2 separate regions of the Homo sapiens genome follow, and region 2 is linked to region 1. Evidence: fine-mapped expression QTL. A gene starts in region 1. The other region holds a variant in brackets. All regions are shown on one strand. Distances are between the middles of the regions. Region 1 holds the start of PTCHD1 (patched domain containing 1). Region 2 has its middle 93 kb from the start of PTCHD1.

What was found. PIP is the estimated chance that this variant, and not a neighbour inherited with it, causes the effect.
Region 2: its variant is the best candidate, but not a certain one, in a credible set for the expression of PTCHD1 in sun-exposed skin (GTEx, PIP 0.51).

Annotation. Positions count from the first base shown.
Region 1 is chrX:23,332,831-23,337,830 of GRCh38, reverse strand. It overlaps PTCHD1 (patched domain containing 1), which reads right to left and starts at 2,982. Exons shown (of 3, transcript NM_173495.3): 1 at 2,605-2,982. The coding sequence starts at 2,955.
Region 2 is chrX:23,424,622-23,430,135 of GRCh38, reverse strand. No RefSeq gene overlaps it. Among named protein-coding and RNA genes, the nearest start is that of PTCHD1, 93 kb to the right of the region's middle. The variant A/T (reference allele first, on the strand shown) is at 2,131.

The sequences.
Region 1 (5,000 bases):
TTCATGCTTGAAGCAACACCCTACACAGCCCTACAAGTCACCTCCTCAGTTCTGTACTGGGGTATGAAAAAGCCTCAGACCTGCTCATGCTCTGTCCACTTCACTTCATTTCAAATGTGACGCCATAAAACCGGCAGGGGGCAGGGACTGTTGGGTGTTGTGTAGTGTTAACTGTCAATGCTATCCTTGATGCCAGTAACGAAGCATCAGAATAACACTAGTAACAACAATAACAGTGATTCTTTCACTCCTGACACCTTTCCTAAAGGACAAGTCATCATGTCTCTAAATGAAAAAAATTAAAAAAAAAAAAGTGCTCACTCCCACACTTTACATTACCATGACTAATGAAGGTCCATCTTCCTGTCCCCTGGCTCCATATCTACCAAAAGTAGGGGCTGGATGCAGAAAGAAAAAATTAAACATATAATTTAAAATTGAAGACAGTTATTTCCTTGGTTCCGTAAGTCTGGATTTTTATAAGCTGTATGAACTCATTTGACCAGAGAGTCATCAGCTAGAAATAAGTTCGGACCACTGCTAGGCTTGGTTTTGATTTTACTCAGACACCTAGAAGATGAAAAACCATCCCAGTTCTTAAAACAATCCACTGATTTTTGACCATTGTCCTTTAAAGTTGCCCTTTAGATATGGAGGCAAACCAAGCCTCCGTCTCTCCAGTCTCAACCTTCTCCTATAGCACTGTTTTCTGTCCTGAACTGATCAAAATCAAATAGGGAAGAAGTAATCCAGTTGAAAAGAGATCTGATAATGCTTGTTGATGTCTCATTAACCTTGAGAGTGACTGTAACTGGTGACTGCCTGTCACAGTGGTGTGATGGTTTGTGGGTGGGGGGGGAAAGGCAATGGAAACGTCACCTTGAAAAAACACAAAAAGAGAAATATCATTTAGTAGATCATCAATCAAAAGACGGGGCATTTCCAACTGTCAGAACTGGTTAAATTACAGTTTCCTTATGCCCATGATGAATCTACTATGTGTTTTCGTGGGAAAGCTTTTGGAGCAGTATTTATCTGTGTCCCAAAATATAGTCACTAAAGTATTGAGAGAAAAAAGAAAACCACTTTGATGCTGGAAGTCTAATCATGAGAAAAACAAACATCTCGGGATTAATGTTATTAAGGTTCTGTGATGAGTAAATGTGTGATGTGTGCCATTAAAAATATCATGAGCCACTCCATGTGGGAAGATCCTAATTCCATTGAGCCCCTAGTCAGATTCCCCTCATTACTAATTGCTAATTGATAACATGTCAACAAACGGACATAGGAAAATAATGAAAATTAGCTTGTCTCTAGGGATAAACTATTACCTGTAGAGGAAAAGAAGAGGAAAGAGTTCCCCAGGTTTCCCGGCAGACTCCCCTTGGGATAAGTAGACTAGAAATCTAACCAGCCTCTAGTACCAGATCTGGACTAGAGACTCACACAAAACGATCACCTTCCATCCCTCTGCACCAGAGTCCCAGCTGGGACTGGTTCTTGTCTGCCCTCCCCAAAGGAGAACCTTAAGTAAACAAGCCCCACAGTCCCCATCAGGGATTCAGATGGAACATTCTCACCTATTTTTACTTTTCTCTCCCGAGGTCTCCACTTTTCCATCTCTAGTCCTCACTCCTCTGCTTTTCTTAGGAAGTTCCTGAAAGTTACCACCATTAACCTCACTTTCCACATCAAATTCCCACCTCAAGCTGATGGCACAACCGGTTTCTGCGAGTGTCACCCTCTAACCAGCTGCTCGGTTTCCTGTGCTCTTCTCGGGGTCACACAGCCTGGCTTCTGTTCTCACCCTTCGGGCTCTGCCCCTCACCCCCATGCTCAGATGCACCCAAATAAAAGTGGATTGATCGGTTCCCTCTTTTCCCAAAGTTTTGGCATTTCTTGAGGAGCTACTGTGAAAGACGAAGGAACTGCGAATTACAAACATAATTTCATACCCTAGAAGATAGAGATGGCTACCTCGCTCCGGAGAAGAGAGCAGCAGGGCAGCCCCCTGTCCTCGCCAGAGACCACACTTCTTTCTGGGTGGGTGGGAGGCATCTTCATCACCATCCCGCCTCACATTCTTTTGTCCTTTCCCAACATCCCACACCAACAACCGTTCCCCAAACACTCCGGGGGGCCAGAAAAAGGGAGAAACAAAACTGAGGACAGGGAGGGGTATCTCGGAATCCCCTCCAAGCATAGTATTTTGTTCTCAAGTAGTAGGACTTTCCAGAATGTCTTCTCTCGTTCTGCTCCTTGCTGGCCCAGTTACCCCAAAGCCTCCCCACCCCCAAGCCCACTGCGACCAAAACAAGCGCACCGACCACAGCACTGTGGCCGCCGCCGCCCCAACTGTTGCAGCAGCTGCGGGGTGGCGGTAGAGGCGACGCGGGCAGGGCCGGACCCGGACCCCGACGCTCCTTGTCCAGGAGGCTGGGAGGCTCCAGTCGGCCGCCCTGGGGCGCGCGGTGCAGGAGAGTCCCTGCGGCAGCTGCCTGGGCTAGGAGAGGTGGCGCTCTCAGCCGGGACCCCAGCGCAGAGCCAGCCCGACCGCGGCCGCGGCGCTGGCGGAGTCTGCCCGCACCCGTCCCCTCTCACCTTTAAGATCAGGTCGGTGTGATGCTGGTCCAGCATGTTGGCTTTCTGGAAGGAGGTGACGATGACCCGGCCGTAGCGCCCGGGGGTCTGCAGGTCCGAGTAGAGACGGTGCTTGGAGCGGTTGACCGGGAAGAGGCTGTTAACGAGGTTGCGCTCGATCTTGGCCAGGCTGTGCTGGGGCGCCAGCAGGTGCTCCACGCTCTCCTCGACCTGGTAGCGGCTGAAGCTGGCGCCGAGCAGGATGGAGATGAGCACCGGCGCCGAGGCGAAGAAGACAGGGTGACTGGCAATGAAGTGGCCGAGCCGGGAGAAACACGTCCTCAAGCCCCTGTGCAGAACCTGCCGCAGCATCCTAGAGCAGAGCGGGCGCGGGAGGAGGGCGAGGCGCACGCTCGGCGCGGGTTCGGGCGGCGGCGGCGGCGGCGGCGGCGGCGGCGGCAGCGGCGCCCGCGGCGGCGGCGACGGCGGCGGCGGCGAGACCCTGAGCTCTCCCGGAGCCGCGGCACCACCATCGGGGAGTCCCGCGCCGCGCCTCGGGAGGGTCCCCTCGAGCCGGAGACACGCCCTCCTGCCCGCGGCCGCGCCCTCCCGGAGAGCCCCCCAGCTTGGCGGCCTCTGCGCCGCCCCCACTCCGCCCTACCGCGTGCGCCCTCCCCACCCCCCGCGGCCTCCCCGCCAGGGGGGCTCCGCGCCGCGCGGCCGCGTCCCCTCTCAGCGCGGGCGGGGCCCGGGGCAGCCCCCGCGGCTCGTCATGACCCCACTCACCCGACCCCCAAGGCCAACGACGGGGTGGCGCGGGGAGCGGCGACGGCGCTATCGCCAGGAGACTCTGCGCGCCCGCCCAGGAACACGAGGACGGAGAATTCCAGGCTACACCCAGTCCCCTCCCCTCCCTTCGCTCCCCTCCCCCGGTCCGGCCCGCCAAGCTCGCTCTCCCCTTCTCTGCCCTCCTCCGGGAAGACCCAGAGATAAATAAAGAAATGGCCCCGATTTTCCAAACAAAAAGTAAAGAGTTCTCAGGAGTGGGGGGAGGGGGCGGGTGTCGGGCGGACCCGCTCAGAGCCGAGTCTCTCCAGAGGCTTAAAGGAGCAGGCTGAAGACTGCGTGCGTCCCGGCTCTCGCCAGGCTCAGGTGGTGGCGCGCACTGGCTGGTGCCGAGAGGGGGTGGGGAGCGAAGACGCTCGAACGTGGAAATCACGCCTCCTTCCAAATAAGAACCGTTTAAAATACCCCCAACACTGCAGCTTCGGCGGGACCACGGGGTCCGGGTGTGTGTCTGGAGCACGTCCACTCAAAAGGTATCCGTGGAGAATCTTTCTCTGTGGCTCTAATTTAGGGTCGCTCCAGAGTGGATTGGGGCTGGCCAGCTCTGTTGCACACCCCCCAACCTCCCACCCAGTCCTTTAGTAATAAAAGTGCTGATAATGACGGTCAGTCGATGGAACTGTCCGTCGCCTGGGCTCCCGGGCTCCCGAGCTCCGGGGCTCCCCGGCTCCCGGTTCTTCGCCCTGCCTTCTCTTCCTCCTCCTCTCTCTGTCGTCACCAGCAGGTCTGGGGGACCTGGTGCGGCGTGGCTGGCGCGGGCGCCCCTGCGGGCGTAGAGTGTTTGAGAAAGGCTGGCCAGGGAGTCAGTAGCATTAACCCCCTTCTCTGCCTCACTCCGCCCTCTCCTCCCCTACATGCGAAGGTGTGAGAGTGGAGGGAACCTTATCTCAGAGCAGGAGAGATACAGGTCTCCGAGCGTGTTGAGCCGCAGGGGGCGCGGGGGAGCCCGCGGGGCGCCGACGGCTTGGCAAAGTTGGGCGTGTGCGTGTGCGCGCCAGCCGTGAGCTAGCAGGCAGTCACCGTGGTTCCCCTCGCACTCCCCCTCCGGAGAATTCCCCGAGAAGGCGGGCGCCGGCTTCGGCCCCGGGATAGACCTGCGGCGGCGGCGGGAACGGCCACGCACAGGTACAATTTAGCGCGTTTCATTTCGCGCTCCAAGCTCCTGGGTCTGTCCACTGCAACGCAGACCGAGCGGGATCTCGGAGTCTGGGTCACTGAGGCGCTCTCTCCAGCCAGGGGGGTGGGATACAGGGCGCGGCGAGGGGTCCTCAGACTCCGCGCTCTGAGCGCTCAGCCTCCCCATCCCAAGCCTTTGGTCGCTACAGCTCAGTCTCCCAGTGCCAGGGGTCGAACGGGAGGCGGTGGCCCGCACTACGGAGCATAGACATGCATATTAATCAAAGCTGAAGGAAGACGAATAGGGACAGGAAGAGGAAGGGGAGTGGGGGGGGGGGAAGAAAGAGGAGAATGGGTAGGAGAATGCGCCTCGGGGAGGCATTTCCCTAACGTTCCCATTCCAGACTCCCCTACACCTAGCGGCCCTTCACTTCTCAAACTGAACTTGGGAACTT
Region 2 (5,514 bases), 92 kb before region 1:
CACCCAACTTGTCATAGCCACCACCAGGACTAGCATGGACTGCTTGGGTTTCAGTAGGTTGCTCCACCATTGCTACTGCCATCACCCATATCATATTCGCTGCCCAAGGACCTGGGAACCTATCCACATGCCAGACTTACCACTGGCCACTACCAGATTGAAAAAAGCCATCTGAAAGCCCAAGAATTGAATCATCTAGGCCCCCTAACATTGGTACCAGTGTAAGTCATGTTGGAGGCCAAAGACAGGCACACTCGGCCTACTGCTGCCACCGCTGGTGCCCAAACACTGGCCCTCCTGGCATCCTACTCCCTAGTAAAACTTCACCATAGCCTCCACTAATAAGAACACACTAAGCCACTGAAGAAATCACAGATACCATTGACAATGTTTACAGCTGAATAAATCATACGGAAATCACACTACTGCATGCACCCAAAATAAAAGCCAAAATGCCCTACCTAACCAACAACATATATAGATCTTCAGAAAAAAGTCTTCCTCTATGAAAGCAATCTAAAAAAACAGGAAGAAGTGACTATTACAACAGATGCACAGATATAAATCTAAGTACACAGAAAACATGAAAAAGCAAGGACATATGACACTTCCCAAGGAAGACAATAATTCTCCAGCAACAGATCTCAATCAAAAAGAAATTCATAAAATCCCCAGATAAAGAATTTTAAGGGAGGTGGAGCCAAGATGGCCGAATAGGAACAGCTCCAGTCTACAGCTCCCCGCGTGAGCGATGCAGCAGACGGGTGATTTCTGCATTTCCAATGGAGGCACCGGGTTCATCTCACTGGGGAGTGCCTGACAGTGGGTGCAGGACAGTGGGTGCAGTGCACCGTGTGTTAGCCGAAGTAGGGCGAGGCATCGCCTCACCCGGGAAGCACAAGGGGTCAGGGAATTCCCTTTCCTAGTCAAATAAAGGGGTGACAGACGGCACCTGGTAAATCGGGTCACTCCCACCCTAATACTGCGCTCTTCCAACGGGCTAAACAAATGGCACATGAGGAGATGATATCCCACACCTGGCTTGGAGGTCCTACGCCAACGGAGCCTCGCTCATTGCTAGCACAGCAGTCTGAGATCAAACTGCTAGGCGGCAGCGAGGCTGGGGGATGGGTGCCTGCCATTGCTCAGGCTTGAGTAGGTAAACAAAGTGGCCAGGAAGCTCGAACTGGCTGGAGCCCACCACAGCTTAAGGAGGCCTGCCTGCCTCTGTAGACTCCACCTCTGGGGGCAGGGCACATACAAACAAAAGACAGCAATAACCTTAAATTAAGACAGACTTAAATGTCCCTGTCTGACAGCTTTGAAGAGAGTAGTGGTTCTCCCAGCATGCAGCTTGAGATCTGAGAACGGGCAGACTGCCTCCTCAAGTGGGTCCCTGACTCCCGAGTAGCCTAAATGGGAGGCATCCCCCAGTAGGGGCAGACTGACACCTCACACAGCCGGGTACCCCTCTGAGACAAAACTTCCAGAGGAATGATCAGGCAGCAGCATTTGTGGTTCACCAATATCCGCTGTTCTGCAGCCACTGCTGCTGATACCCAGGCAAACAGGGTCTGGAGTGGACCTCCAGTAAACTCCAACAGACCTGCAGGTGAGGGTCCTGACTGTTAGAAGGAAAACTAACAGAAAGGACATCCACACCAAAAACCCATCTGTACGTCACCAGCATCAAAGACCAAAGGCAGATAAAACCACAAACATTGGGAAAAAACGGAGCAGAAAAAACGGAAACTCTAAAAATCAGAGCACCTCTCATCCTCCAAAGCAACACATCTCCTCACCAGCAACAGAACAAAGCTGGATGGAGAATGACTTTGACGAGATGAGAGAGGAAGGCTTCAGAAGATCAAACTACTCCGAGCTAAAGGAGGAAGTTCGAACTAATGGCAAAGAAGTTAAAAACTTTGAAAAAAAATTAGACAAATGGCTAACTAGAATAACCAATGCAGAGAAGTCCTTAAAGGACCTGATGGAACTGAAAACCATGGCACAAGAACTACGTGATGAATGCACAAGCCTCATTAACCGATGTGATCAAATGGAAGAAAGGGTATCAGCGATGGAAGACGAAATGAATGAAATGAAGCATGAAGGGACGTTTAGAGAAAA[A/T]AGAATAAGAAGAAATGAACAAAGCCTCCAAGAAGTATGGGACTATGTGAAAAGACCAAATCAACGTCTAATTGGTGTACCTGAAAGTGTCGGGGAGAATGGAACCAAGTTGGAAAACACTCTGCAGGATATTATCCAGGAGAACTTCCCCAATCTAGCAAGGCAGGCCAACATTCAAATTCAGGATATACAGAGAATGCCACAAAGATACTCCTCGAGAAGAGCAGCTCTAAGACACATAATTGTCAGATTCACCAAAGTTGAAATGAAGGAAAAAATGTTATGGGCAGCCAGAGAGAAAGGTCAGGTTACCCACAAAGGGAAGCCCATCAGACTATCAGCGGATCTCTCGGCAGAAACTCTACAAGCCAGAAGAGAGTGGGGACCAATATTCAACATTCGTAAAGACAAGAATTTTCAACCCAGAATTTCATCTCCAGCCAAACTAAGCTTCATGAGTGAAGGAGAAATAAAATCCTTTACAGACAAGCAAATGCTGAGAGATTTTGTCACCACCAGGCCTGCCCTAAAAGAGCTCCTGAAGGAAGAACTAAACATGGAAAGGAAAAACCGGTACCAGCCACTGCAAAAACATACCAAATGGTAAAGACCATCAAAGCTAGGAAGAAATAGCATCAACTAATGAGCAAAATAACCAGCTAACATCATAATGACAGGATCAAATTCACACATAACAATACTAACCTTAAATGTAAATGGGTTAAATGCTCCAATTAAAAGGCACAGACTCTCATATTGGATAAAGAGTCAAGACACATCAGTGTGCTGTATTCAGGAAACCCATTTCACGTGCAGAGACACACATAGGCTCAAAATAAAGGGATGGAGGAAGATCTACCAAGCAAATGGAAAACAAATAAAGGCACGGGTTGCAATCCTCATCTTGGATAAAACAGAGTTTAAACCAGCAAAGATCAAAAGAGACAAAGAAGGCCATTACATAATGGTAAAGGGATCAATTCAACAAGAAGAACTAACTATCCTAAATATATATGCACCCAATACAGGAGCACGCAGATTCATAAAGCAAGTCCTTAGTGACCTACAAAGAGACTTAGACTCCAACACAATAATAATGGGAGACTTTTAACACCCCAGTGTCAACATTAGACAGATCAACAAGACAGAAAGTTAACAAGGATATCCAGGAATTGAACTCAGCTCTGCACCAAGCAGACCTAATAGACATCTACAGAACTCTCCACCCCAAATCAACAGTATATACATTCTTTTCAGCACCACACCATACCTATTCCAAAATTGACCACATCGTTAGAAGTAAAGCCCTCCTCAGCAAATGTAAAAGAATAGAAATTTTAACAAACTGTCTATGAGACCACAGTGCAATCAAACTAGAACTCAGGATTAAGAAACTCACTCAAAACCACTCAACTACATGGAAATGGGACAACCTGCTCCTGAATGACTACTGGGTACCTAACGAAATGAAGGCAGAAATAAAGATGTTCTTTGAAACCAATGAGAACAAAGACACAACATTCCAGAATCTCTGGTACACATTCAAAGCAGTGTTTAGAGGGAAATTTATAGCACTAAATACCCACAAGAGAAAGCAGGAAAGATCTAAAATTGACACCCTAACATCACAATTAAAAGAACTAGGGAAGCAAGAGCAAACACATTCAAAAGCTAGCAGAAGGCAAGAAATAACTAAGATCAGAGCACAACTGAAGGAAATAGAGACACAAAAACCCCTTCAAAAAATCAATGAATCCAGGAGCTGGTTTTTTGAAAAGATCAACAAAATTGATAGACCGCTAGCAAGACTAATAAAGAAGAAAAGAGAGAAGAATCAAATAGACGCAATAAAAAATGACAAAGGGGATATCACCACCGATCCCACAGAAATAGAAACTACCATCAGAGAATACTATAAACACCTCTACACAAATAAACTAGAAAATCTAGAAGAAATGGATAAATTCTTCGACACATACACTCTCCCAAGACTAAACCAGGAAGAAGTTGAATCTCTGAATAGACCAATGGGAAGCTCTGAAATTGAGGCAATAAGTAATAGCTTAGCAACCAAAAAAAGTCCAGGACCAGATGGATTCACAGCCGAATTCTACCATAGGTACAAGGAGGAGCTGGTACCATTCCTTCTGAAACTATTCCAATCAATAGAAAAAGAGGGAATCCTCCCTAACTCATTTTATGAGGCCAGCATCATCCTAATACCAAAGCCTGGCAGAGAGACAATAGAAAAAGAGAATTTTAGACCAATATCCTTGATGAACATTGATGCAAAATCCTCAATAAAATACTGGCAAAAAGAATCCAGCAACACATCAAAAAGCTTATCCACCATGAACAAGTGGGCTTCATCCCTGGGATGCAAGGTTGATTCAACATATGTGAATCAATAAACGTAATCCAGCATATAAACAGAACGAAAGACAAAAACCACATGATTATCTCAATAGATGCAGAAAAGGCCGTTGACAAAATTCAACAACCCTTCATGCTAAAAACTCTCAATAAATTAGGTATTGATGGGACATATCTCAAAATAATAAGAGTTATCTATGACAAACCCACAGCCAATATCATACTGAATGGGCAAAAACTGGAAGCATTCCCTTTGAAAACGGCACAAGACAGGGATGCCCTCTCTCACCACTCCTATTCAACATAGTGTTGGAAGTTCTTGCCAGGGCAATCAGGCAGGAGAAGGAAATAAAGGGTATTCAATTAGGAAAAAAGGAAGTCAAATTGTCCCTGTTTACAGATGACATGATTGTATATCTAGAAAACCCCATCATCTCAGCCCAAAATCTCCTAAGCTGATAAGCAACTTCAGCAAAGTCTCAGGATACAAAATCAATGTGCAAAAATCACAAGCATTCTTATACAGCCATAACAGACAAACAGAGAGCCAAATCATGAGTGAACTCCCATTCACAATTGCTTCAAGGAGAATAAAATACCTAGGAATCCAACTTAGAAGGGATGTGAAGGACTCTTCAAGGAGAACTACAAACCACTGCTCACTGAAATAAAAGAGGATACAAACAAATGGAAGAACATTCTATGCTCATGGGTGGGAAGAATCAATATTGTGAAAATGGCCATACTGCCCAAGGTAATTTATAGATTCAATGCCATCCCCATCAAGCTACCAATGACTTTCTTCACAGAATTGGATAAAAACTACTTTAAAGTTCATATGGAACCAAAAAAGAGCCCGCCTTGCCAAGTCAATCCTAAGCCAAAAGAGCAAAGCTGGAGGCATCACGCTACCTGACTTCAAACTATACCACAAGGCTACGGTAACCAAAACAGCATGGTACTGGTACCAAAACAGAGATATACACCAATGGAACAGAAGAGAAACCTCAG